Linked DNA regions of Homo sapiens. The protein of the gene in region 1 interacts with the protein of each later gene in a pairwise test. Each region holds a gene or a part of one and is shown on either strand. Other genes may lie near its edges. The genes, in order: CLEC7A, TMPRSS2, SAR1A and TMPRSS4.

The links.
Region 2: the proteins of CLEC7A (region 1) and TMPRSS2 interact in binary tests that used the Homo sapiens proteins (3 or more experiments, as listed by UniProt).
Region 3: the proteins of CLEC7A (region 1) and SAR1A interact in binary tests that used the Homo sapiens proteins (3 or more experiments, as listed by UniProt).
Region 4: the proteins of CLEC7A (region 1) and TMPRSS4 interact in binary tests that used the Homo sapiens proteins (3 or more experiments, as listed by UniProt).

The regions. Positions count from the first base shown.
Region 1 is NC_000012.12:10,116,277-10,120,235, forward strand, and holds the end of CLEC7A (C-type lectin domain family 7 member A), read right to left. Parts: intron 2,315-3,959; coding exon 2,182-2,314; 3' UTR 501-2,181; downstream 1-500.
Region 2 is NC_000021.9:41,498,151-41,505,186, forward strand, and holds part of TMPRSS2 (transmembrane protease serine 2), read right to left. Parts: intron 40-7,036; coding exon of another isoform or gene 1-39. UniProt on the Homo sapiens protein: Plasma membrane-anchored serine protease that cleaves at arginine residues. Participates in proteolytic cascades of relevance for the normal physiologic function of the prostate.
Region 3 is NC_000010.11:70,160,479-70,167,514, reverse strand, and holds part of SAR1A (small COPII coat GTPase SAR1A), read left to right. Parts: intron 1-4,755; exon of another isoform or gene 4,756-4,825; intron 4,826-5,583; 5' UTR 5,584-5,599; coding exon 5,600-5,657; intron 5,658-5,776; coding exon 5,777-5,896; intron 5,897-6,445; coding exon 6,446-6,511; intron 6,512-7,036. UniProt on the Homo sapiens protein: Small GTPase that cycles between an active GTP-bound and an inactive GDP-bound state and mainly functions in vesicle-mediated endoplasmic reticulum (ER) to Golgi transport.
Region 4 is NC_000011.10:118,073,220-118,080,083, forward strand, and holds the start of TMPRSS4 (transmembrane protease serine 4), read left to right. Parts: upstream 1-3,858; 5' UTR 3,859-4,083; coding exon 4,084-4,086; intron 4,087-6,864. UniProt on the Homo sapiens protein: Plasma membrane-anchored serine protease that directly induces processing of pro-uPA/PLAU into the active form through proteolytic activity.

The DNA.
Region 1 (3,959 bases):
AAAATACTAGATATCTCTTCCAAACTCCATCCTATGCTTTAACTACTTAAAACAGTTAACCATACTCCTCATGTTCTCAGCCTGATCTATCTCTTCCCTTTCTTTTTTTATGTTTATTATACATTACATCATTTATTTATTTATGTATGTATTTTTAATTGTACTTTAAGTTCTGGGATACACGTGCAGAACGTGCAGATTTGTTACATAGGTATATATGTGCCATGGTGGTTTGCTGCACCTATCTATCTCTTCCCTTTCTACATGTTTTTAAGTAATGAAAACAAATTTGCATATTAAACAACAATAGTAAACCTCACAAAGATCTTTATCTTCTCTTAGGTTTTTAAAATTTTTAAGATCGCGAATTAATGCTTTAATATCAAAATATCTACTATAAATATCCACTCCACCCATACCAAATTCATCATCATTTTTGGGGAGAGGGCAAATTGTAATAGTGATTGTGACACACAGGCACATAATTTAGAGGCCATGGGTTTTTTGATAAGAGTTTTTTTTTATTGAAATGAAATCCACATAACATAAAATCATCCATTTTAAACTGCATAATTTAGTAAAATTGGTACAATTTCTTTTCACATATTAATCAACATTAGAGGACTGTAAATGCCTCCCTAGTAATACAGAAATATCCATTGGAAATAAAAATAGCACCAGTGGGAAAGTATGAAAAAAATAAGACAAATCAGCACATGAGGAAATATAGTTTCATTCCAATAATACCATTTTACAGTAATTACTGAAAAAAATGGTAAAAATTGTAAAACAGTACATCACAAAACTAATAAAACATATTCCAAAATGTTAATACTTGTTCCAATGAGGTTGGTTACTTTTTTATATTCATCATCAGATTTTATGTATTTTTATGTATTTTTGTATTTAAAAAGCAGAAAACTTTCCTATGAGAGCAGTTTCCCTACAATTACATATTATACAAGATTCTAGGCTGGGTGCAGTGGCTCACGCCTGTAATCCCAGCACTTGGGAGGCCGAGGCAGGCAGATCACTTGAGGTCAGGAGTTCGGGACTACCCTGACCGACATGGAGAAACCCTGTCTCTACTAAAAAAATACAAAATTAGCCGGGTGTGGTGGTGCCTGACTGTAATCCCAGCTACTTGGGAGGCTGAGGCAGGAGAATTGCTTGAACCCAGGGGGCGGAGGTTGCGGTGAGCCGAGATCGTGCCGTTGCACTCCAGCCTGGGCAACAAGAGCGAAACTCTGTCTCAAAAAAAAAAAAAAAAAAAAAGATTCTATTAGAGATATGGCAGATGTACTCTCTGAGCTATTTAATTGATAAAGAAAAAGTAGGAGTTCCTGCTTTTTACTAAGATGATAATCATAATTATGATCATACTGATGAAAATAATAAAATTGCTCTGACTGTGGTGAAGATTTTTTCCCATTTCTTCATTTAGCTATTCAGAAATATATTTCACCCTCAGTTCATAACTGATATACTGCTAGAAGTTGAGGGTCAAATCGTGGCAACACACCGTGCACTTCAATGGCATTGTTGAGCATGAAACAACTCTGATAGAGCCAGAAATTAAGATTCGCTTATGGCTTACCCAAGGTAAATGCCAAGTCAATGGCAGAATGAAAATTCAAGCTTGGGGCCAGGTGTGGTGGCTCACATCTGTAATCCCAGCACTTTGGGAGGCCAAGGCGGGCAGATCACTTAAGCCCAGGAGTTAGAGACCAGCTTGGTCAACATGGCAAAACCCAGTCTCTACAAAAAACACCAAAAATTAGCCTGGCATGGTGGCATGCACCTGTAGTCCCAGCTACTTGAGGGGCTGAGGCGAGAGATAGCTGCAGTGAGTCGAGATTGTGCCACTGCACTCCAGCCTGGGTAACAAAGTGAGACCCTATCTCAAAAAAATAAATAAATAAAAAATAAAAACTCAAGCTTGGCTGCCCTGATTCCATGTCTAGGGATCTACTAACTAGAAAAATAATACTAGCCTACCTGTAGGTCGACAAATACAGAAATCACAGCCTCTCCCTTCAATTTCTTGGTTAAGATTACAGTTGGCCAAGCTCTCTAAACATTTTCTGCATTTATCTTGACCTCAGCTGTTACTCTTTTCTGTTCTGTTTTCTGTCCTCCTTACTACCTCACATATTTCTCTCTCCTTCTCCACCCTTCCTCTTACATTGAAAACTTCTTCTCACAAATACTATATGAGGGCACACTACACAGTTGGTCATAAATGACTGACACGTGAATCCATACACAATTTGGAGATGGGTTTTCTTGGGTAGCTGTGGTTCTGATCTGAAATCTGTTAAAATAGAATACAGTGAGGTAATTAGAACAAATGTTAAGGAATACTGTCTACATGGCGCACAAATAAATTAGTAAGGATATTGGTGAAAAGAGTTCTGAAGTGTTTCTATTATTGGAAAAGGAGGCTTAAATCTAAATTGTTGTGAATCTCAAGTGGTTAAATGAATAGTCTCCATTATTAAGGCAGAAAAACGACTTAATTTTTTTTCAAGAACTGCTACTAGCTGCATAAACTAAAAAAAAAGTTCCTGACAAAGAAGAAAAATCATTTAATATTCTATAAAAAGTTCTTTATATATCTTTCAGCCTATTACTTAAATGTTTCTTTATCAAATCAAGTAACAGTTTAATTAAATTATTACTGGATATACTTAATGAGTAGACCAAGCAGAAGCATTAATGCTAAAACAGATCTAGAACTAAAAAGAGAATCAGAGATGCCCAGGCCATTTAAAGGCAGGGCAAACAACTCTGTATATTTTAATGTATCCTGGAAGCAGAATTATATTACAATACAATGCTTGACAGTTATGGAAATCAACACTGCTAAATGCAGGCATGGTCCTGTTCAGTTTGGTCTTCAATCTCCTTAAGTAGCAGTGTTAATGAGTCAAGCTCAAAGAGCATCACTGACCGTCAGTGCAAAAGCTATGACTTGGCACTCTTTGTCCTGGTTATGTATCTCTCCCTCTTGACCCTGAGGTTGGAAGATTGAGAAAACTTTGCTTTAGCGATGACTAAGGCTAAGATTAACTACTTAGATTCAGACCTCAGGGAGAACTCTGACCAGCATTATTCCTTAAAAATTTTCCTTGACCTATAAGTGTTTTGGGGGCATAGACACAGCTAGATTAAATAAATGCCACCCGGAAAACAAAAAAGTAGTAACATATCAAAATGTTAACTTGGGCCCACTTGTGATTATAGAAAGAGTCCTCTAGTCATACATTTAAAATAGCAAGAGAAAACTCAAGACAAACAAGTACTATAAGAAAGTAGAAAATACATTTGGCTGATAATAAATTCACTGTACTTAGCCTAGTAGAAGTAAAACAGTTAAGTGATTATGCTCAGCAGTTTGTACTGTTCACACTATTGGGTGAACAGACCTGGTGGTGAGAACAGAGGCAAATGAAAAAACACTTCAAATTAATTCTACAAAGATTTTAAGATAAAATGTTAACAACACTATAAAAAGCAATCTGACATAAGAGAAAACTAATCAACACAAAAGAAAAATAGTAAAAAAAAAAACAAACAGAAACAGATACATATAGAAAATTGGAATTATCAGACACAAGCTAAAACAACTATGGTTAGTGTATTCTGAAAGTTAGAAGACAATACTAAGAATGTTGGAAGAAAAAGTAGAAGTATACGTGTTGAAATAATAGATTTGAGAAAGAACTAAACTAAAATTATAAAACTGAAAATGTCACCAAACAAAATAAAAGACTTAATAGAGGCTTTTAATGGTAGATTAGCCACAGATGAGAAAAAATAGATGACCGGAAGATATGTGAAAGGTTATTACATAGATTGGAGCAAAAAGCTAAAAAAGAATGAAAACACAGGAAAAAGCAAAAGAAACATATAGGATGGTGTCAATGGGTCTGTAATGAATGTAACTGGGATTCCAG
Region 2 (7,036 bases), on another chromosome or scaffold:
CATCGAGTAATGATAGGTATCTGGAATGTTCAATATGACCTAGAAGAAAGAATTACAGGACTGTAATATTTCCATACCAGTTAGTTTTTAGAAGATAAATCTGGAAAGAACTAGAAGAATCTCTAGATGAAGGTTACCTACAACAAAGACCAGTGTTGCCTGCTGACCTTTGGCCTGCATCTTCACCACTGCTTCCCCACATCCCTCCATATTTAAGGACTTTGGGACCCACTTGTGCCTTAGAGGTTACAGCAGAAGCACTCTCCTCTGGGATCAGAGTGGGTAGGAGGATGGGGTGCAATTGTAAGTGCAGCGGCCAGGACAGCCTGACCAGAAAGAAGAAGGAACACACTCAGTGACTCAAACATCCATCGGGAAGGGCTCTCAGGGGACTGCCTGGGGCTCAAGGCCACCCACAACTCCAGTGCCACTAAGCCCAGGCATCCTGCTGGACTTAACCCAGTTCTCACCAGGAAGCTGTGATATCCCCTATACAGAACATCTACTCAAGGGAGACTGTATGGCATAAAACACTGAAGAAACACGACAAGGTAACTAAACCCATCAATGTCAGCAGAGATTAAGGACAAGATGGGCCCAGGAGGGAAAGACCTGGGCCAGTTCCTGGCAACACAGCTCCCTGGAAGTGTCGATGTGTGAGTTACTGAACCTTGTTGAAATCTCAGGGTCCTCATGGGAAAACGGACAAAGCAATCACCACAGTTGTGTTAAGCTGAGGGTTGTGGGAGAGTGGGGAAAGAGTGCCTCACAGTACTAGGAACTGAGGAAGAGCAGGTGCAATCAGACCGTCTTTCCCCGAGAACGTCCACAGGCACTGCCAGTAGCCACCCACTGCCCAGCGGGTGGTTCAGGGCTCAGCACCAAATACAGCTCACAGTTGACTTTTTAAAGCAGGCCATGTGGGCCCTCTCAATTTTTAATAGATACATACGCTTAAAATAATCCATAAAACATGTCCACAGTCACTCCATTTACTACCCCAAACCCAAAAAAGAAAGAAATTCAGAGCCAACCATTTTGACCACTGCTAAGATTAGCAGTAATGAAAAGAAAGCTGTGGGCCATTTTGCTTGTTGTCCTTTGTGAACAGTTAACAATAATAGCTAGAGATGCCGTCAACACGAAATGCTGTATAGTAAAGCCGCATTCTGACATCACTCTCCATGGACAAAGATTCTTCGCTTGATCAAACTTATATCAAGCTCCTGAACCTTCTAGGCCATCTGTGCATTTCCTTGTAAAATCCAGTTTTAGCAAAAAACCTTGCTCAGTCAGTTTAGCCAGAACCTCCCACCCTCGGTATCTGATCACTCTGGATATCTGATCGGGTTCCTCAGCCTCCACCGTGCCACAGGTGATGTCTGATCACCCAGCCTGTCTTCAGCAAGAATCCTGTTTGGTTGGTTTAGCCAGAATCCCCCTTACCCTTGATGTTTTCTCTTTGTGATTTTTCCACCCACCAACCCCACCCTGATCCTTGGTTATAAATTAACTCCCACTTGCCCATACTGTACTCAAGCGGATCCCAGTCTCTTCTTCCCACTGCAAAATCTGCTGGCTGTGGTCCCTGTACCTGCCTCCGTGGTCCTGAATAAAGTTCGCTTCACCATTTTAACAAGTCTCATTGGACGATTTTTTTTTCTTTAACATGCACCTTCCTGAGCAAATAAAGGGCTTTTTTCCACCCCTTCCCGCTTGGCTTTAAATGACCAAAGAATATTTTAAGAAACGGGGTTCAAGATTATCCGTCCACAAGACCATGTTCCCAATGAGGGAACAAGAACCTGGAGGAGGCTCTGGGCTTCGGACCTGGCCAGACCAGTGTCCACTGTCTGTGACATGGCCACAGAAGAATATTTCCCAGTTGCTGGCACAAAGCAGGTGCTCAAACAGCAGCAGGCAGCACTGGGCAGCGGTTCAGCCCCTGACCTCTGAGACTAGACTCTAGATCCAAACTCAGGCTCAGCCACTCACTCTCCATGACCTGGAGGAAGCTATTGAAGGTTCTGTGCCTCAGTTTCCCCATCTGCAAATGCAGATAATAGTAACACCTACCTCCAGGGCATTCCATGAGTTAATACTAATGAAGTGCTTCATGCTTAGCATAAAATGAGTGCTATATAACTTTCCATTAAATAAGAGGAATTATAAAGCTGATAAACATTTAACAACCTGCTGAAGGAAAAGAGGGCTGTCTTGATTCGCAGGTTTGCCTTCGGTAAGTATTCCCAGGCTACCAACATGAAGCCCACCACGGAGCCAAGTAGAGTGGGGCCGGCTTCAGTACACCATCGCTTTCCTGTGTCCTAAGCAGAACTGGTTGCTGAATCATTAAACTATAAAACCCCAACAGCCTGCCATGAATGAAAATGAGTATATGGCTTTTTAGTCTCGAGAAACCTCACCCAACAGGTTACAACAAACATGCACCAATCATTTATTTACTCTTCAATTACAGATAAAAATACAAGAACCAGGTCATGTTGTAGCTTTGGGACTTTTTCTAGGATTAAAACTAAAGTTCACACCTTCCTGGGTATAAGGAAAGGAAAGTGACTAATGTACAGGTGGGAAGGATCACCATTTAAAATGTATCAAAAACGTTTAAGCCTTTTAGCCACATCTTAACAGACCTTGCCTATGTCTGCTTTGTGAAGAGAGAGGATCCTCAGGCTTGACAACACAATAAATCCCGCATTCTTGTCTCATAAGCAGGACAGAACTCAGTACCATCCTAAGATTGCTTTCAAAGAGTCCTGCCTAACCAAACACATCCTCATGCCTCTGGTTTCTCGGCTGTCCTATCTCCCCAGTTACAGGTTTGGTTGAAGTTTCAGGAAGTGAAAATTCGATCCCATTGGCAGCTCTCCCAGCTCAGAAGCCCTCTGAAAGGAGTGAAGAATCAATACTCAAAACCCACACTTGCTATTCATTCACGATCCCTAACAAGGAAGCCAGGGAAGGAAGGAACACCGGGAGCCACCACCATTAATTGTCAAATAAAAGCCATGGGACCCAGAGGCAGTCACAGGATAATCCTATCTCTTCCAGCAATCAGAACATGATAAACAAAAATATTCCGTGTGCCCAAGTCAGTTACCATGGACTTTGGAATGGAAGACCAGAGTGATGCTGCCAGTAACATTCTCCAGCTGGGCCGGGCACGGCGGCTCCTGCCTATAATTCCAGCACTTTGGGAGGCCAAGGCGGGCAGATCACCTGAGGTCAGGAGTTCAAGACCAGCCTGGCCAACATAGTGAAACCCCATCTCTACTAAAAATACAAAAATTAGCTGGGTATGATGGTGGGTGCCTGTAATCCCAGCTACTTGGGAGGCTGAGGCAGGAGAATCACTTGAACCTGGGAGGCAGAGGTTGCAGTCAGCCAAGATTAGGCCACTGCACTCCAGCCTGGGTGACAGAGAGAGACTCTGTCTCAAAAAAAAAAAAAAAAAAAAAAAAAAAAGAAACAACAACAACATTCTCCAATTGAAAATAAAACAAGGGGGGGAATGTCCCGCTCTGACATTAGATCTGCAAGGGGAAGCACTGCTGTCCCGAAAAGACCAGGAAATCACATTCAGTCCTGTTCATCTTCAAAACAGGCATTTCCTCATTCACACAAGCTTGTACATCGCATTAACTCATTTCTGAAAGGAGCAAGACGTAAAGTAGATGGCGAGAGACAATGCTGTTTAGCGAATGCTTGCTCCTGTCATTTAAAGGACCGGGATGATGGCTCTCAATTCTGGAAAGCCAGCCACCATGAGCACTTGGGGAAATTTTCCTTTAAGTGTGAAAGAGCAACAGTGGGTGGCACTCAGGCTCCATTCCTGGCTGGCAGGGAGCTCTTCCTTCAATACAGACAGTGTCACCCACTTGAATCTCACAATGGCACACAGCTGTCCTCGCACTGTTTTGGTCCATCCTGGACTGAGAGCTGAGTCAGCCCATGAGTCACCTGCCTGGCCACCATGCAGCAGGACGATGCTGTGGCATCGTATCCGCATCCCATGACATGATGAAGTTACTGCCAAAACAAGAATCTTTTCTCCTAGTTTCTCTCCTCTGGAGATCTCAGGACACGTTTACTGGAGACTTACTTTCCAAACAACCAAGCCAACGCGAATGAAGTTAGGCTTGTAGACACTGACTCCCACCCAAGATCCAGGGGTATTCTCTGCAATGAAGTCTCCACTGACCTCACCGTGCACCATTGTGCACACACCTTCTCCTTCTCGAAGCCCCCACCTGTGACTGGTACGGTTCGAGTTGCTGGAGGTGTGAGAGGGAACAGACAGCCTCAGACTCAGTGCCCCTTCTTCAAAATCCAGACAGCACCACCACCACCATCCACGGACACATCCCAGCCAATGACCAAATCATCAAAAAGAGCCCTTTATGCCAAAATAACCGCACTAATATCACATTATACAACGAGATGTTCTATCCTCCTAAGGATAGAATGCATGACTAAATGAGTTAGCCAACAGTGGATTTCAGTGGCTGTTCAGCAGAAACTTGTTTATGTATAATCAGGTAAATTGCATACACAATGATTGGCACAAGAGTTCTACTGAGAGAGAAAGGTTGAGCGAGAAACAGAAAGATCACCTTAGGAGAGGTATTGCCTGCATCATCCAAGTTTCTTTTCCTGTGAATGACTCATTGTCCCAAAGAGATTACAAACTTTTTAGGGCAGATATCAGGTCTGGTTCTCTCTCTTTCTGTTTGTTTTTTAAATCTCACTTTGTAGCTTACAAAGACAGTATTTAAATGTTTTTATGGAGTTCTTACCACCTGTACCCCAAAAACTATTGGGGAAAAATTAATAAGCATGTTTGGCAAAGTTGAGGGATACAAGATCAATATAAAAATCTATGTGTTTTTATATACCAACAACAGACGATCGGAAATGTAAATTTGAAATACAATGCAATTTGCAGGAAAAAATATATATTTTTTGAGTTCCAAAGGCCAAATGAGTAAGATGAAATTTAGCAGAGGGCGATAAGATGCCCACACCCAGACAACACCAGCAGCCCAAGTCAGGACAGTGGGTGACCTCCCAGGAGTCCAGGTGCCTCAAGCTGAGTGCAACCTGGCATGACAGGCAGGCAGGCGGCAGAGGCCCTCAGGTCACTCCAGGCGGAGACTTCAACACCACACACAAGCCACTGGCTGAGGCTTAAAGAACTTGTCCAAGTCAATCTGTAAAATGGGGATGATACAGAAATAGGGTTGTTGCAGGGATTAAGTGAGAAAGCAAGGCCGTAGCTCAGTGCCCAACCCATGGTGAGCACTCAATAATAACATAATGATGGCAGATAAGGTTTATCTTCCAACACGTAAGAGCCGGCTATGTGGAAAAGGAATTCAGTTTATTCTGCATACATCCAAAGGACAATACCAGAATCATGATCAGAATTTCCAGAAGAGCAGGCTTGGATTCTATCTGGGGAAATCAAGGTTCCAACAATTAGAAAGTTCACATATGGCCTGGAGCTACCTTAGAATGTACCGAATTCCTCAAACCTAAAAATGTATGTTTCAAGACTGGAGGATCATTTCTCCAACATATTCCAGAACAGAATTAGGCTTGAGCATCAAGACCAGACATAGTGATCTTTCATATTACTCCCAACTCCTTATAAATGCATCATCACCAGTGAACTTGAAAATGTCAGCAAATTCTCTGTTATCAGTATCTTGCACAAAGAACTCCAAGCCCATCGTCCCTAGAAAGCATGGTCTCCCATGACCCCTGGGCTATACTGCAGTGGGGTCAGGCTGAGTGCCCCGCCAGGACAGCCCCTTGGAAAGCAATGGCCTTAAAGGGAATTTGACACTGCATTGTGCACCTCGTACAAACAAGCAATAATAAAAAGCCTCAGCTTAGTTCCATCTGCCAAGTCAGACCTCGCTTGAAAATATTTTTCTAACAAATCCAATTGTCACAACCTCTCATTCTGAGTCCCACTTGACAGCCCCGATTTTTCCACCTAGTCTGCCCTTGAGTGAACTTCCAGACTTCTGCTGCCACAACCACAAGCCAAGGTGCCCTTCAAACACTTCCTGCTTTCTTACCACAACTCTGTGCCCTAAACTCCTCCTGCCCTCCTGCCATGGATGCCCAATGGCTCAGCGCCATCCACACATAGATGTCAGAGCCCTCACCTCCCTCTCCCAGACTCACCTCCAGGAGGATGAAAAGCCTGTCTTCGAGTTTCCTGCCCTCTCAAACTTCACTCTGTTTACAACAAAAGTAACCACCCACACCCCTGCCAGAAAACCAGCCTCGACTCCCAACCAGCGCATTTCCACTCATTCAGTTCCTCTCTCCTGACCATTGCTCAGCAACCAGGAATAACCAAGTCCCAGATCAGGCTCTGCCTCCTCCTGGAGCCCAGCCTCTGTTCTAGGTCATGCTGAAGAGCTGCCTGTGTGCTCAACCAAGCTGCTACCCTGTCACAGATCCCCCTTTTGCTCCTCCTTGGGTGTCCACAGGCTCGGTGGGGCCAAGGTGGTCAATGGCCATGGGGACATCATAAGCCCCCTTCTTCACACCCAGGCCCATACCCCTGGTGCTTGCAAGTCAGGGCTTCCCAAATCACCCTTAGGGCCAGGAGGGGCCCCACAAAGGCTGACTCCATACAGGCCTCAGCTCTCAGGTACATAATGCTCCTGCACCCCAATCCTGAGGCCACGCAGTGCATCCCATATTGGAGGATCCCCTGGCAGGTGTCCTGGAAAGTAAGGAGGGGCGGGGAAGAGTAGCAAAGGCCTGGTGACTGTGGGATGAGGGACACTCAGGGAGTGCAGAGCAGGAGGGACCAGAGAGCAGAAATGCACCTGGGCCTTCAATGCTCCTGGGCTCTCTGGTTCCCCACAGGGAGCTCTCCCTGCCCTCACTCTCCCCACTAGCAAGGCCACTTTCCAAGTCTTCAGCAACCAAAACTGAACAAGCACTCCATTGACCATTCACCTTTCCTTTCTACCTCAATGTCCAAGGCTTA
Region 3 (7,036 bases), on another chromosome or scaffold:
TCTCCTGCCTCAGCCTTCTGCATAGCTGGGATTACAAGCAAGCGCTGCCGCGCCCAGCTGTTCATTTTATTCTTCATCTGGCATTCTTTGAATGTAAGGGGATTTTTTTGTGGGTAATGCTTTTACTGGTTACTGTTCATGAAAATTTTGAATGCAGTTGGTCATATCTAGTATAAAGCCCTGTGTTCAGATGCTCCTGCTGATGGAGAGGAGTAAAAGTGTGGACCTTCCATTTTTCTGCACCGCATCTGAGATACTAAAGCAAAAATTCAGCATGGCCAGACAATGCTGAGAAACCTTAAGACCCACCAGTGTGTCTAGATCCTACCCTCTTAATTTCATTCAGAGGTCATTTTGCTTATTACCAATATATGTAAACCTTTTAGTAGCTTTTGATAGCTATGAGAAACAATAGAAAAAGTAGTGTTAATATCAGTACCAGTTAAGTTATTTACTGGCTTGGGAACTTACTGCTATATCCTGAAAAGTATTCTTTTTTTGCTTTTTTGTTTCTTGAGACAGGGTCTTGCTCTGCCACCCAGGCTGGGGTGCAGTGACACAATCATAGCTCACGGCAGCCTCAAATTCCTGGGCTCAAGCAATCCTCTTGCCTCAGCCTCCCAAGTAGCTGGAACTACAAGCACGTGCCACCATGCCTGACTAATTTTAATTTTTTTTTTTTTTTTTTGTAGAGATGCAGGTCTCTCTATGTTACCCAGGCTGGTCTTGAACTCCTGAGGTCAGGGAGGAATCCCCCACCTCAGCCTTGCAAAATGCTGGGATTACAGGTGTGAGCCACGGGGGCCCGGCCTGAATAAGTATTCTTATTTTAAGAAAATCTATTTGTAAAATGAGTTTGGGTGTGATTATTCATGTATGAAAAGATTCTCTTCTTATCCCTTAATGGTTCTCTAAAATAGTGATGTCATTTCTTTTTATAAATTGAGACCCGTGTCTGCAAAAATGATTAAATATTGAGATAACATTGGTAAATGGAGCAGGGCAAGTGGTGCTGGCCAGTAGAATTTTGGGTGACTTTTGTTTTTTAGAGTTGTTTACAGGATAGATTAATATGTTTTTCATTCAAATCAATGTGCTTTTCATTCTTATTTTCTATTTAGTGCATCTAAGTGGCATTCTGATTCACATTATTGATAAGACTGATTTCCTAGAGTTGTTCTTCACTGGATGACAGCAGTCGTATGTCTAGGGAATGTGAATGAACCGCTGCCTGGAGGAGTAAGTCACACAGTAAAAGAAAGTGTAGGCATACCTCGGATATACTGTGAGTTTAGTTCCAGACTACTGAAATAAAACAAGTACAGTAAAGCAAGTAACACGAATATTTTGGTTTCCTAGTGCACATAAAAGTTACGTTTACACTATACTGTAGTCTGTTAAGTGTACAGTAGCATTACGTCTTAGAAAATACGTACCTTATTTAAAAAATACTTTATGGCTAAAAAATGCTAACAAGCATCGGAGCCTTCTGCGAGTCATAACCTCTTTGCTGGTTGGGGATCTTACCTCCATGTTACTCCACGTTGATAGCTGTTGACTGATCAGGTTGATGATTGCTAAAGGTTGGGATGGCTGTGGCAGTTTCTTAAAATAAGACAACAAGGAAGTTTGTTGCATCAGTTAATGCTTGTTTTCAAGAAAGATTTCTCTGTAGCATGCAATGCTGTTTGATAGCATTTTACCCAAAGCAGAATTTATTTCAAAATTGGAACCAGTCCTCTTAAACCCTGCTGCTGCTCAAGTAAGTTTATGTAAACTCAAGTAAGTTTTTGTAATTTTCTAAATTGTTGGTGTCATTTCAACAGTATTCATAGCATCTTCACCAGGACTAGATTCCATCTCAAAAAAACCACTTTTTTTGCTTATCCATAAGAAGCATCTCTTTATCCATTAGTTTGATCATGAAATTACAGCAGTTGTCACATCTTCAGGCTCTACTTCTAATTCTAGTTCTCTTGCTGTTTCTACCACATCTAAGGTTACTTCTTCCTCCAAAGTCTCGAACCCCTCAAAGTTTTCCACGAGGGTTGGAATCACTGTCTTCCTAACTCCTGTTAATATTGATATTTTGACCTCTTCCCGTGAATCATAACTGTTCTTACTGGTACCTAGAATGGTGACTCCTTTCCAGGAGGTTTTCAGTTTACTTTGCCCAGATCCAGCAGAGAAATCAGTCTATGGCATTGATGGCTTTGTGAAATATATTTCTTTTTTTTTTTTTTTTTTTTTGAGACGGAGTCTCGCTCTGTCGCCCAGGCTGGAGTGCAGTGGCGGGATCTCGGCTCACTGCAAGCTCCGCCTCCCGGGTTCACGCCATTCTCCTGCCTCAGCCTCCCAAGTAGCTGGGACCACAGGCGCCCGCCACTACGCCCGGCTAATTTTTTGTATTTTTAGTAGAGACGGGGTTTCACCGTTTTAGCCGGGATGGTCTCGATCTCCTGACCTCGTGATCCGCCCGCCTCGGCCTCCCAAAGGAAATATATTTCTTAAATGAAAGACTGGCAAATCGAAAATACTCCTTGATCCATGGGAAGCAGAATGGATGTTGTTAGTAGACATTAAAACAACATTAACTTCTTTCTGCACCTCCATCAAAGCCCATGGGTGACCAGGTGCGTTGTCAATGAGCAGTAATATCTTCAAATCTTTTTTTCTGAGCAATAGGTCTTCACAGTGGGCTTAAAATACTTAGTAAACCATGCTGTAAACAGATGTGTGGTAGGCAGAGTAGATTTAGTATAATTCTTTTTTTAATTGTAATTTTTTTAATTGGAAAACAAATACACAACTTGGAATGGATTTGAGGCAAATTGTGCCATAAGCACATTTTCTTTAAGTGGCTAAACAAAGTTTAAAAAGCAAGTAACAGTAAAAGAAAATGTTTCTGGTACAGGACCAGCAGTACAGAAAAAACAGTGTGTGAGGTACCTGGGAGTACCTGGATAATACACCCATTCTGCAGTAGTGCAACTTTTAAGTACATATTGTTGGCTGTCCGTAGTCCACACAGAGTTACAACTCCATACTTCAACACCATGCTGACAGTTCCTAAAGAAAACTACTTTAAAAAAAGGCATAACCCGGATGTTCCCTTATTTGACCAACTCCACCTAAGTTTAGATGTGCAGAAGGGCTTAGATATATCCGGAGTAAGCCACAGGCAACATGTTACTTCATCAGTTTTCTAAAATAAGGTTTCAGGGCAATGACAGTAAGGGAAGAACACATGGAGGAATGAAGTCCTGATTACCATACATGCATATTTTTTTTTGACAGTAGGGAGAAGCCTTTTACAGATAAGTTACAAACAAAAGGCAAATAAACAGTTTTGTGCAAGAAATTTAACACATTCTGTACAAGGTCTTCATTATGCTGTCATCATTTGTACAAACTCATAGTTTACTTGACCATCACCATCAGGATCTGCTTCCCTGATCATTTAATCAACTTCTTCATCTGTTAACTTCACTCCAAGGTTTGTCATCACATGGTGAAGTTCTACACCACTAATATAGCCATTGCCATCCTTATCAAACACACAGAATGTTTCTCTAATTTCTTCTTCACTGTCTGTGTCTTTCATTTTTCTTGCCATCATTGTCAGAAATTCAGGGAAGTCAATTGTGCCATTACCATCAGCATCTACTTCATTAATCATGTCCTGTAACTCTGCTTCTGTGGGATTCTGCCTGAGACCTCATTACAGTTCCTAGTTTCTTTGTTGTTATAGTTCCATCACCATCTTTGTCAAATAGTGAAAAAACTTCTTTGAATTCTACAATCTGCTCCTCAGTCAGTTGGTCAGCCATGCTGCAAGTGCTACTGGTTTCCGAGACGCAACCACACAACCACTCTGCTCGCTCACTTGCTCCACTTGGACTGATTTAGTGTCATTCTTCAGGGCCCTAGGATTTTCAAAATGGTAAATGAGTATGGGTCCTAGGATTTTCAGAATGGTAAATGAGTATGGGTCCTAGGATTTTCAGAATGGTAAATGAATATTGGCCTCAACGTAAAGTCACCTTGCATTAGCCCATAACAAGAGAGTCAGCTTGCCCCTTGAAGCTTTGAAGCCAAGCAATGACATCTCCCCTCTAGCTATGAAAGTCCTAGATGGCTTTTCAAATAGAAGGCTGTTTTGCCTACATTGAAAATGTGTTGTTTAGTGTAGCCACCCACCTTCATCAGTTATCTTGCTGCAGCTTCTACATCAGCACTTGCTTTTTTACCTCGTGTTTTTATTTTATTATTATTTTTTATCAGCAATAAGGCTGTTTCATTTTCTTGACGTTCATGGGTTTGCTGGAGTAGCACTTTTAATTTTCTTCAAGAACTTTTCCTTTGCATTTGCAATTTGGGTAACTGTTGAGTGCAAGAGGCCTAGCTTCTGGCTTATCTCAGGTTTTGATGTGTCTTCGTCACTAAGCTTAATCATTTCTAACTTTTGCTTTCAAGGGAGAGACCTGTTACTTTCACTTGGAGAATAGGGAGGCTTGGGGTGGGGGCAGGACTGTGGAGGAAGTCAAGTTTGCTGTCTTCTATGGTTGTGGTTTGTGGCACAACAAAACAATTATACTAGTAATACCAAAGATCACTGATCATAGATCATGATGACAGATATAAGAATAATGAAAAAGTTTGAAATATTGTGTGAGAATTACCAAAATGTAACATAGAGACATGAAGGGAGCACATGCTGTTAGAAGATGGTACTGATACACTTACTCAACTCAGGGCTGCTTCCAACCTTCAATTTGTAAAAAAACCAGAAAACCTCAGGATCCACAAAGTATCATCAAATGAGGTATGCCTTTATATTTTTAACTCCTAGTTCTCTGAGTATCATAGATCAAAAACTATTAGGAAACAAGTTATTTTTGCACATATAAGGATTCTAGACTCTCCTCCAGATTGCAAAATCTGTGTCAAGAAAGAATATTAGTTTCTCTTTACTTTGCTTCCTCCCCTCCCCTTCCATCCCCTCCTCCCCTTCCCCTCCTCCCCTCCCCCTCCTCCCCTGCCCCGCCTCCCCTCCCCTCTCTTTTCTTTTCTTTTCCTTTCCTTTCCTTTCCCTTTCCCTTTCCCTTTCCCTTTCCTTTTCCCTTTCCCTTTCCCTTTCCCTTCCCTTTCCTTTCTCCTGTCCTGTCCTGTCTTTTTTATCAGAGTCTCCCTCTGTTGCCCAAGTGAGTGCAGTGGCACCGTCATGCCTCACTGCAGCCTCAAACCCCTGGGTTCAAGTAATTCTTCTGTCTCACCCTCCTGAGTAGCTGGGACTCTTGGTGTGTGTCATTATGTCCAGCTATTTTTTTAGTTATTTGTAGAGATTGAGTCCAGCTTTCTTGCCCAGGCCAGTTGTGAACTCCTGGGCTCAAGTGATCCGCCTGCCTTGGCTTTCCCAAATGCTGGGATTCCAGGTGTGAGCCACCATGCCTGGCCTGCTTTCTTATTCCCGAAAACAAGAGACTATAAATGTGCATCATGGCTAGGGAACAAGAGTTAACCTCTCCACAATTGTACTGTCATTCAGAAAGCTAATGTTTGCTACTTTCATATTTTATACAGGTAGTAAGCATTAATAATGTCTTTCATCTTTGAGTGGATCTACAATGGCTTCAGCAGTGTGCTCCAGTTCCTAGGTAAAGCCATTTCCTTGAAATACAGGTTTCAAAGTTTGTGCCTTTCCCTCAGTAATTTAACTACAAATAGGCTTTGGTCTGTAGAGAGCAAATGTGTTAACAATTTTTTTCTCTTTTAGGACTGTACAAGAAATCTGGAAAACTTGTATTCTTAGGTTTGGATAATGCAGGCAAAACCACTCTTCTTCACATGCTCAAAGATGACAGATTGGGCCAACATGTTCCAACACTACATCCGAGTAGGTTTGAAAATATCAGGTGACCTTTTGATCTTTAAAGGTCAGTGTTAGGCGTGGAGGATGAATCCCTAGTTGGTGGAGTTCTTTTATTAACTGAAGTCCCAAAAGCCAACTCATACGAGAAAGTTCCCTGTAAGACACACTCAGGTTATGTACTTTCAGATCTAAACCTCTGGAACTTTGTCATTATCTGTTGTCACTGGTCCTGTAAAGGGACACCTCTCCTATACCTACTTCTAAGAAGTGGAAAATAGCTTGGAAGAAAAGAAACCTTTGGCTTTTAGAATAGTTTAAGAACATTTCACCCTTGTATTCCTTTTCTTTGTTGGGAGTGGGGCGTTGCCTGGGCTGGTCTCAAAAATCCTGGGCTCAGATTATCCTCCTGCCCTCAGCCTCCTGAGTAGCTGGAACTACAGGCGGGTACCACCACACTCAACTTCTTGTATCTTTTTCTTTACAAGATGAAAGCATTGATATTGGCTTATAGTACTAGTAGTTGGGGGTTGTTGAGTTGACAAGTTTTTTTCTTCTTTTTAAACAATTTTTCAGCATCAGAAGAGCTAACAATTGCTGGAATGACCTTTACAACTTTTGATCTTGGTGGGCACGAGCAAGGTAAGTGATGACTCAGTGGAAAGCATGTTTATTGACTTATTTTTTTTGTGCCTCCCAGCTCCTTTTAAAAGCAGTGTGTCATTTTTACCTTTTAAATTACTTACATTTTAGAATTAGGATCTTATTACTTTAGTGAAGTTGTTTTATTCATTTATTTTTTTAAGTAATTTCAAACTTGTCAAAAGTTGCATTAAATAATACACAGAAGTCCCCTTCAATATTACCCTATTGAGCTGGGATAAAGTTAGCCATAATGTATAACTATTCATGAACTTTTAAGTATTTGCCTGATATAGCCAAACTCAACTCAAATCTTGACTGAAAATTTTTACAAAGCAGGACAGCATCTTGCCATTTTAATCTTTACTACATTTTTACTTATTAATGTAATTTACCTTGTAACTGGAAAATATGTTAAAAGATATATGTATTGCTTCAACAAGAGTAATTATTTCATCATTTTAACTAGGCTTGCCCTAAGCCAGTATATTTTCTTCTATACCTTTTGCTCAAATTTGTTAGTCT
Region 4 (6,864 bases), on another chromosome or scaffold:
GAGCCACTGCGCCCAGCCAGGATTATCTCTTAATCTTCATAACAACCCTATGAGGTCAGAAGTATTGTTATCCCCACTTTACAGATGAAGAAGATGGCGTGCAAGAGGATTAAATAAGATGCCCATGGTTACGCAAATCATTAGTGGCTGAGATTAGGAGGCAGGACCCCAGGCCACTAGAGCTCAAGCTCTTGACCAGGGAGGATTCAGGTTTTGAGAGGCCTGAAGCTTATGCATTTTGAGGGGCTTGGTTTTTTTCAAAAAGCAACAGACTCTTTAATGTGGTTTAAAATACATCCAGATCAAGTCCCCGGCTGTTGTGAATGCCGAAAAGAGACAAAAAAGCTGCCGGTGCAGCTTCAAACAAGTCTGAGCGTCAGGCTGGCCCATAAGGAAAGCAGTTGCAGGGACAGGAGGCAGCCCCCTCCTCCAGGAAGGGCAACAGGAGCAGCCGGGTGCCTGCCTGTCCCTGGGGTGACCGCCTCTGTGCTGTGCAAGGCGGGAGGGCTGTGGCAATAGGCCTTGGACCTCCCCCATGGACACCAGCGAGTTCCCCTGGCCTCTGGGTCAGCCCTCAGCAGCGCCGCCATGATGGGGTGGAGGAGGGTTAAATAACCATCTTTACAGAAATAATATTCTCCTGCAGAACGTGTCTGAGCTCAGACCATTGTCCAGAAACCTCATAGAAAACAAACAACAAAGTTTTTTAAAGTGCTGCTGACACCTCTCAGAATCTGGTGTGCATAGAGCTCTCAGCTGGACGAGACCTGTTGGTCCTTAAACTGAGGTCACCTGTATGGGACCAGCCTGGGTGAGGAAGGCTCTGGCCTTCACTCACAGGGATAGGCCACTTCTTGAGGGGCTTTCTTGAAGAAAAAGCACGTCAAAGAAATATTCAGCAAAATTTACAAAAACGTATGATTGTGTGAACATATTGCCGGGCCCTTTCCCAGGGCCCTGGAAGGAACCGTGCAAGTGAGGGGCTCTGAAGCTTCAGCTTCAGGAGTTTCATGATAACTCTGCCTCGGATCTTGACACACATGCTGGAAACAGATAAGGAAAGGGAAGAAGGAAGAGAAAAAAATGTCAAAAATAAAGAGGAAGAGATAAAAGAGAAGTAATGGGAGGGAAAGAAGAGAGGAAAAACAGGAGGAGGATCTAAAGAGATGGATGGGCAAGAGAAAGAAGCAGGCAGGACAGGGCTGAGGGAGAGCTGAGGCTTCCTCCGGGAGAATGGGGGTTCTGGGCCGGGTGCGGTGGCTCACACTTGTAGTCCCAGCACTTTGGGAAACCAGAGCGAGTGGATCGCTTGAGCTCAGGGGTTTGAGACCAGCCTTGTCAACATGGTGAAACCCTGTATCTACAAAAAATACAAAAATAAGCCAGGCATAGTGGCTCACACCTGTAATCCCAGCTACTTGGGGGACTGAGGCGGGGGAATCCCTTGAGCTCAGGAGGTGGAGGTTACAGTGAGCTGAGGCTGCACCACTGCACTCCAGCCTGGGCAACAGAGGGGGACCCTGTCTCAGAAAAAAAAAAAAAAAAAGAATGTGGGTTCTGGTCCAGCTGGTTTTCCCTGGCACCTGGGAGAGGTGGGCCTCTGTTGTCTCCAGGCCACTGTGCCTCCCTCTGTAAACCTTCACCCCCACCTGCAGGCATCACAGCCACCCTGCCCAGTCCTGCTTATGTGCCTTCTTCCCGGACCTCTCCACAAACTCCCAGACCCAAATGGGAGCAGAAGCCAGGAGGGCTGAGTCATCATCCCTCCAACCAGCCATGCCCAGCAGCCTTCATGCCCAGACAGCTGCCTCTTTCCTGGTTCATCACCTGAGCACCAGGTAAAGCAATGCAAACCTGTGGGCCAGATGTTTAGCCTGGCACATAGAGGAACCAAGACAACTGAAAACGTGGCTCCCAGTGGCCCACTGGCTTCTCACTGCCCTGCTGCTGGGGAGGTGCCTGCCTGGACCATCACGGCCCTGACCCTGAGGTCACCTGAGATCACAGGCTCTTGCCTCTGCCCAAGACTTCCAACTCTCAAGGCCACCAGCCATCAGTAAGGAAGGGCTGGGGCTGTGCTGGCTCCAGAGCCCTGCAGGCCAGCTTCAGATCTCTGCTGCTCAGAGACAAGTCCAAGGCCACACTGCATTCATCAGCTGAGATTTGGCCAATAATCCATTACACAGATCCGGTATTCCTCCTGCTCAGACATCACTGGGGTCCTCCATGGGCCATATTATCCCAAACCATGAACCTGGGGCTTTCAAACACTTGTGTTCCATTCAGCCTGTTCACAAGCCTGGCAGTGTGAACCAGTAAGAGAACCAGGTTCCAGCCCCAACTCTGCCCGAAACTACTTCATGTCCATAGGCTATAGTTTCCTCAGCTGACAAATGGGAACAAAATATTGGGGTTGTTGTTGGAGAATTAAAGGGCTGATACACAGAAGCACGTTATCAACAGAAGGACAAATACACACGTCTAACCCAGGCTGGTCTCCTGGGAGGGTCAGGTCTGAGAAATGGAAGGAGATCTGGATTCATATGGAACCAGACACTAATTCATTATGTGACTTTGGGTCATTGACTTTGCCTCTCTGGAATTTAGTTTTGTCGCCCACAGAATGGGGGAACAATGTGGACAATTATCCAAGTCTCTCCCAGCAAAATATCTGTGGCTGTAAGGTTTCACCTTGCACATCCCCTGGCCAGGGGGCAGCTCCAGCTATCAGGATGTGGCAGAACGTGAATCAGAAATGATCCTGTGGGGCTGGGTGCGGTGGCTCACGCCATAATCACAGCACTTTGGGAGGCTGAGGCAGGTGGATCAGTTGAAGCCAGGTGTTTGAGACCAGCCTGGCCAACATGGCAAAACCCCATCTCTACTAAAAATACAAATTAGCCAGGCATGGTGGCGCACAACACCTGTAATCCCAGCAGCTACTTGGGAGGCTGAGGCAGGAGAATCACTTGAACCTGGGAGGTGGAGGTTGCAGTGAGCCAAGATCGCGCCACTGCACTCCAGCCTGGGCAACAGAGACTCTGTCTCAAAATAAAATAAAATACAAAAACACAAAACTTAGCTGGGTGTGGTGGCAGGTGGCTGTAGTCCCAGCTACTCGAGAGGCTGGAGCACGAGAATTGCTTGAACCTAGGAGGCGGAGGTTGCAGTGAGCTGAGATTGCGCCCCTGCACTCCAGCCTGGGGGACAGAGAGAGACCCTGTCTTAAAAAAAGAAAAGAAAAAAAGAAAGAAAGAAAGAAGGAAATGACTCCGTGGACGAGGAGACGTGGGCTCTAGCCAGAGCACCAATAGTGATTTTCAGAATATTGAACGGCTGCTGAGGCAGGGGCAGGAAGCACTAGTACATTGGCTCTGTGCAGGACAGCTTCACTTCTGGGATCCAGGGAAAGGGGGTACATCTTACCTCCCTAAGAGAAGAAACTCCCTCCTTCTCTGTGGACTTTCCAATCCTATTGCTCCACACCTGGCAATGATCTCTTTGTACTGAGCTGCAAACCCTGTCGCCCAACCCCCAGACCACTCCAACTTCCCACAACCCCAAACCAAAGCACCCACACAGTGAGAAGTCATGCACCTAGAAGGTAGGGGGAGGGGGGGCGGAAACTTCTGGCATCACCCTCAGCCAACACCCAGTTGGGTGGAAGTCATTCAGGCGGGAAGGCTTTTGTTACGCCTTAGGTGTGTCACCTGTTCTGAGGCCGAAGGTCCCATGAATGACTTCAGGTGTTGTTCCAGCCCCTAAGATAGGTGTCAGGTTACAAGACACATAATCATTCCAGTTTGGCAACTTCACTTGTAGGGCTGTTTTAATCAAGCTGCCCAAAGTCCCCCAATCACTCCTGGAATACACAGAGAGAGGCAGCAGCTTGCTCAGCGGACAAGGATGCTGGGCGTGAGGGACCAAGGCCTGCCCTGCACTCGGGCCTCCTCCAGCCAGTGCTGACCAGGGACTTCTGACCTGCTGGCCAGCCAGGACCTGTGTGGGGAGGCCCTCCTGCTGCCTTGGGGTGACAATCTCAGCTCCAGGCTACAGGGAGACCGGGAGGATCACAGAGCCAGCATGGTGAGTGTGGGGCCCTCTGCTCCCAAGACACAGGAAGGGTGGGTCTCCCCATGTAAGGCCCTTCAAGCAGCCTGAGCATCCATCAGCTGAGAATTCTGTGACACCTTCTAGGTTAAAAAAAGAGGCCACACCCAAATCCCCTCACACCCCAGCCCGGTACACGTCTCATACCCACCTGCCTTCCTCTCTTCCTCCATTGCCATGGTCCTTGGACCAGCTCACCTAAGAAGCTGAGCACAGAGCCAGGGCTGTCCTTCCCGACTATTCTTTCCTGAATCCTGCATGTTCTTTTGCCCAATGTCTCCAGGTCTGTTGGTTAGAGGTTGGCACTATTTTTCCAAGGCAGGGGGCTGTTCTGATGCCACGGTTGCCCTCTGCCACTCCCTGGGGAAACTGATTCCTTTTCTTTTTAAAGAAAAGTGTAGACTGGGTGCAGTGGCTCACGCCTGTAGTCCCAGCACTTTGCGAGGCTGAGGCAGACAGATCTCTCGAGGTCAGGAGTTTGAGACCAGCCTGGCCAGTATGGTGAAACCCCATCCGTACTAAAAATACAAAAAATTAGCCAGGCGTGGTGGCAGGTGCCTGTAATCCCAGCTACTTGGGAGGCTGAGGCAGGAGAATCGCTTGAACTTGGGAGGCGGAGGTTGTGGTGAGCCAAGATTGTGCCATTGCACTCCAACCTGGGCAACAAGAGTGAAACTCCGTCTCAAAAAAAAAAAAAAAAAAAAAAAAAAAAAAAGAAAGAAGGAAAAGAAAACAGTGCAGAGATGCCTCCAAACAATCTAGGGTGTTTGTGGTCATCTTTTACTTGGTCTCTTTTCATGCCCTCACCCTCTCTCCTCCTCCTCTGAATACCTGGAGCGTCTTCGCTGTCTTGGGGCAAAGAGAATCAACCCTATCTTTCAAGGAGGACAGCTGAGGGCCAGGGAGGGGAAGAGATAATAACTGGGTCTGAGGAGGAACCCAGGGGTCTTCCTTCTCCAGTCCTTGGCCAAGAGGCAGCAATTGCCCAGCCACCAAAGTGAAAGGGAAGGGAAGAGAGGAAAGGAGAAGCCACTGTCCAAGGGGGAAGGGTGTGACCTGCAGGGGCCCCTCGAGTGATTGTCTCCTATTCCCAACCTGAGCACTTCCCACGACACTCTTCTGAAAATTCTGGCAAGAACAATTCTTAGTGCGGTTGTAGCTGATGATCAGAAAGGGGAAGGGGCTTCCCTTTGAGCCAGGATCAAAGCACAAGCTTCCTGCTTTCCCATCCAAGGAGGCGCCCCAAAGTTTGGCCTGTGTGCAGAGACGCTGTATCCCCTGGGGCTCCCAGGAGAGGAGAGCAGCTGTGGAGTCTACCTAGCTGTGAGCTGCTTCTGGGTGGCAGGCACTGAGGAGACCTGGGGTGTCTCTTGGGGGAGCAACAGAGAAGGGAATCATTTCTAGGGCAGGTCACTAACTGCAGAATCAGAAGGCTGAGGCCAGCTCCCTGATTAGCTGTGCTGTCTTGAGGCATTCATCTTCCCGAGACTCACCTTCTCCCCTGCCCACGGAAACGATATGACCCACAACAGCCCCACGCACATGCACCGGGTTCGCAGAGATTACACAGCTAATACATGTGAGTAGGTTCTGGAAACCATGAAGCCCCGCACAGATGTAAGGACTTAGGACTAAAGAGGAGTCTGTGCTAGGAAATGACAGCTGGGTAGTACACCCAACACAGACCCTTTGCCACCAGGGAAGGAGCTGGGCATTGCTGGAGGAGCGGGGGAGGGCAGGTGGGAACACTGGTGGAGGGGTCAGGTCAGGCCTGGGGCCCCAAAGGCAAGGCAGCAGCATGGCCAATCTCCACGGTGTGGTCAAGGAAGTTTCTAGCCCCGGAGCTAGCCATTATACTGCCTGTGCTGAATAACCCTGTCATTAAGCCTGTGCTTAATAACCCTTGACAGCCATAGCTCCCAGCCCTGAGGGGAGGATGGGATCTCCACACCCAGGCTCAGCCCTCCCTTCCCTTCCCTTCCATTCCCTACCTCCTTCCATCCCCACAGGCCCCTTTCTGTGACAGTCAGGGTCCTTTGAGCTGCTGCGTCTTAATGACAGCTCTCCCAAGAACCCATTAAGCTGGGTATTCCTAGGGAGAGCTGGAGCAGGGACTCAGGCCCAGGCAGAGGTCAGAGCCCAAGCCCTGTCCCCGAAGGAAATGTGTCCCATGCTAACTACTCCATAGCTGAGGCCTGGAGGGAAGTCAGGGACCCTGGGACTGGTTATCCTGGCCTTGACTCATTACTGTTCCGGAGACCTAAACGCACCCTGAGCCACCAGACGTGGGTGTTAACACCTGAGGTCAACCCCCTGACGCTTCCGGCTGCTCTGGAGGAAGCTGGTCCTCCCTCCCACCTCCTGTTTTCCGTGCCAGCCTGGTACAGAGTCAAGGGGCTTGGCTGGGCTTGGCTGGGCTCAGAAACGTGGCAGTCAGGAGCCAGCCTGCGGGCAGCGGGGTGCTGGGAGCACTGCAGGGTCCACCCTGACTGGGGCACAGAATCCAGAAGCCCACTCGGCCCTGGCAGTGCCATCCTAGGCTCTGAGGTGGTAAACTGAGCTGGGCAGTGGGAAGGTCCTAAAGGGCAAGACAGGCAAGGAGGGGCTGCTTGCTTTGCCTGCTCTCCTGGATCCTTTGCCACCTGGGTGACAGGGCCTGGTGTCACTGTAACCACTCCCCCCCCACCAAAAGAAGCTCCAGCCAGACACCATTTAATCAGCCCCTTTCATTGGCCAGCCTCTAAATGGGGCTGG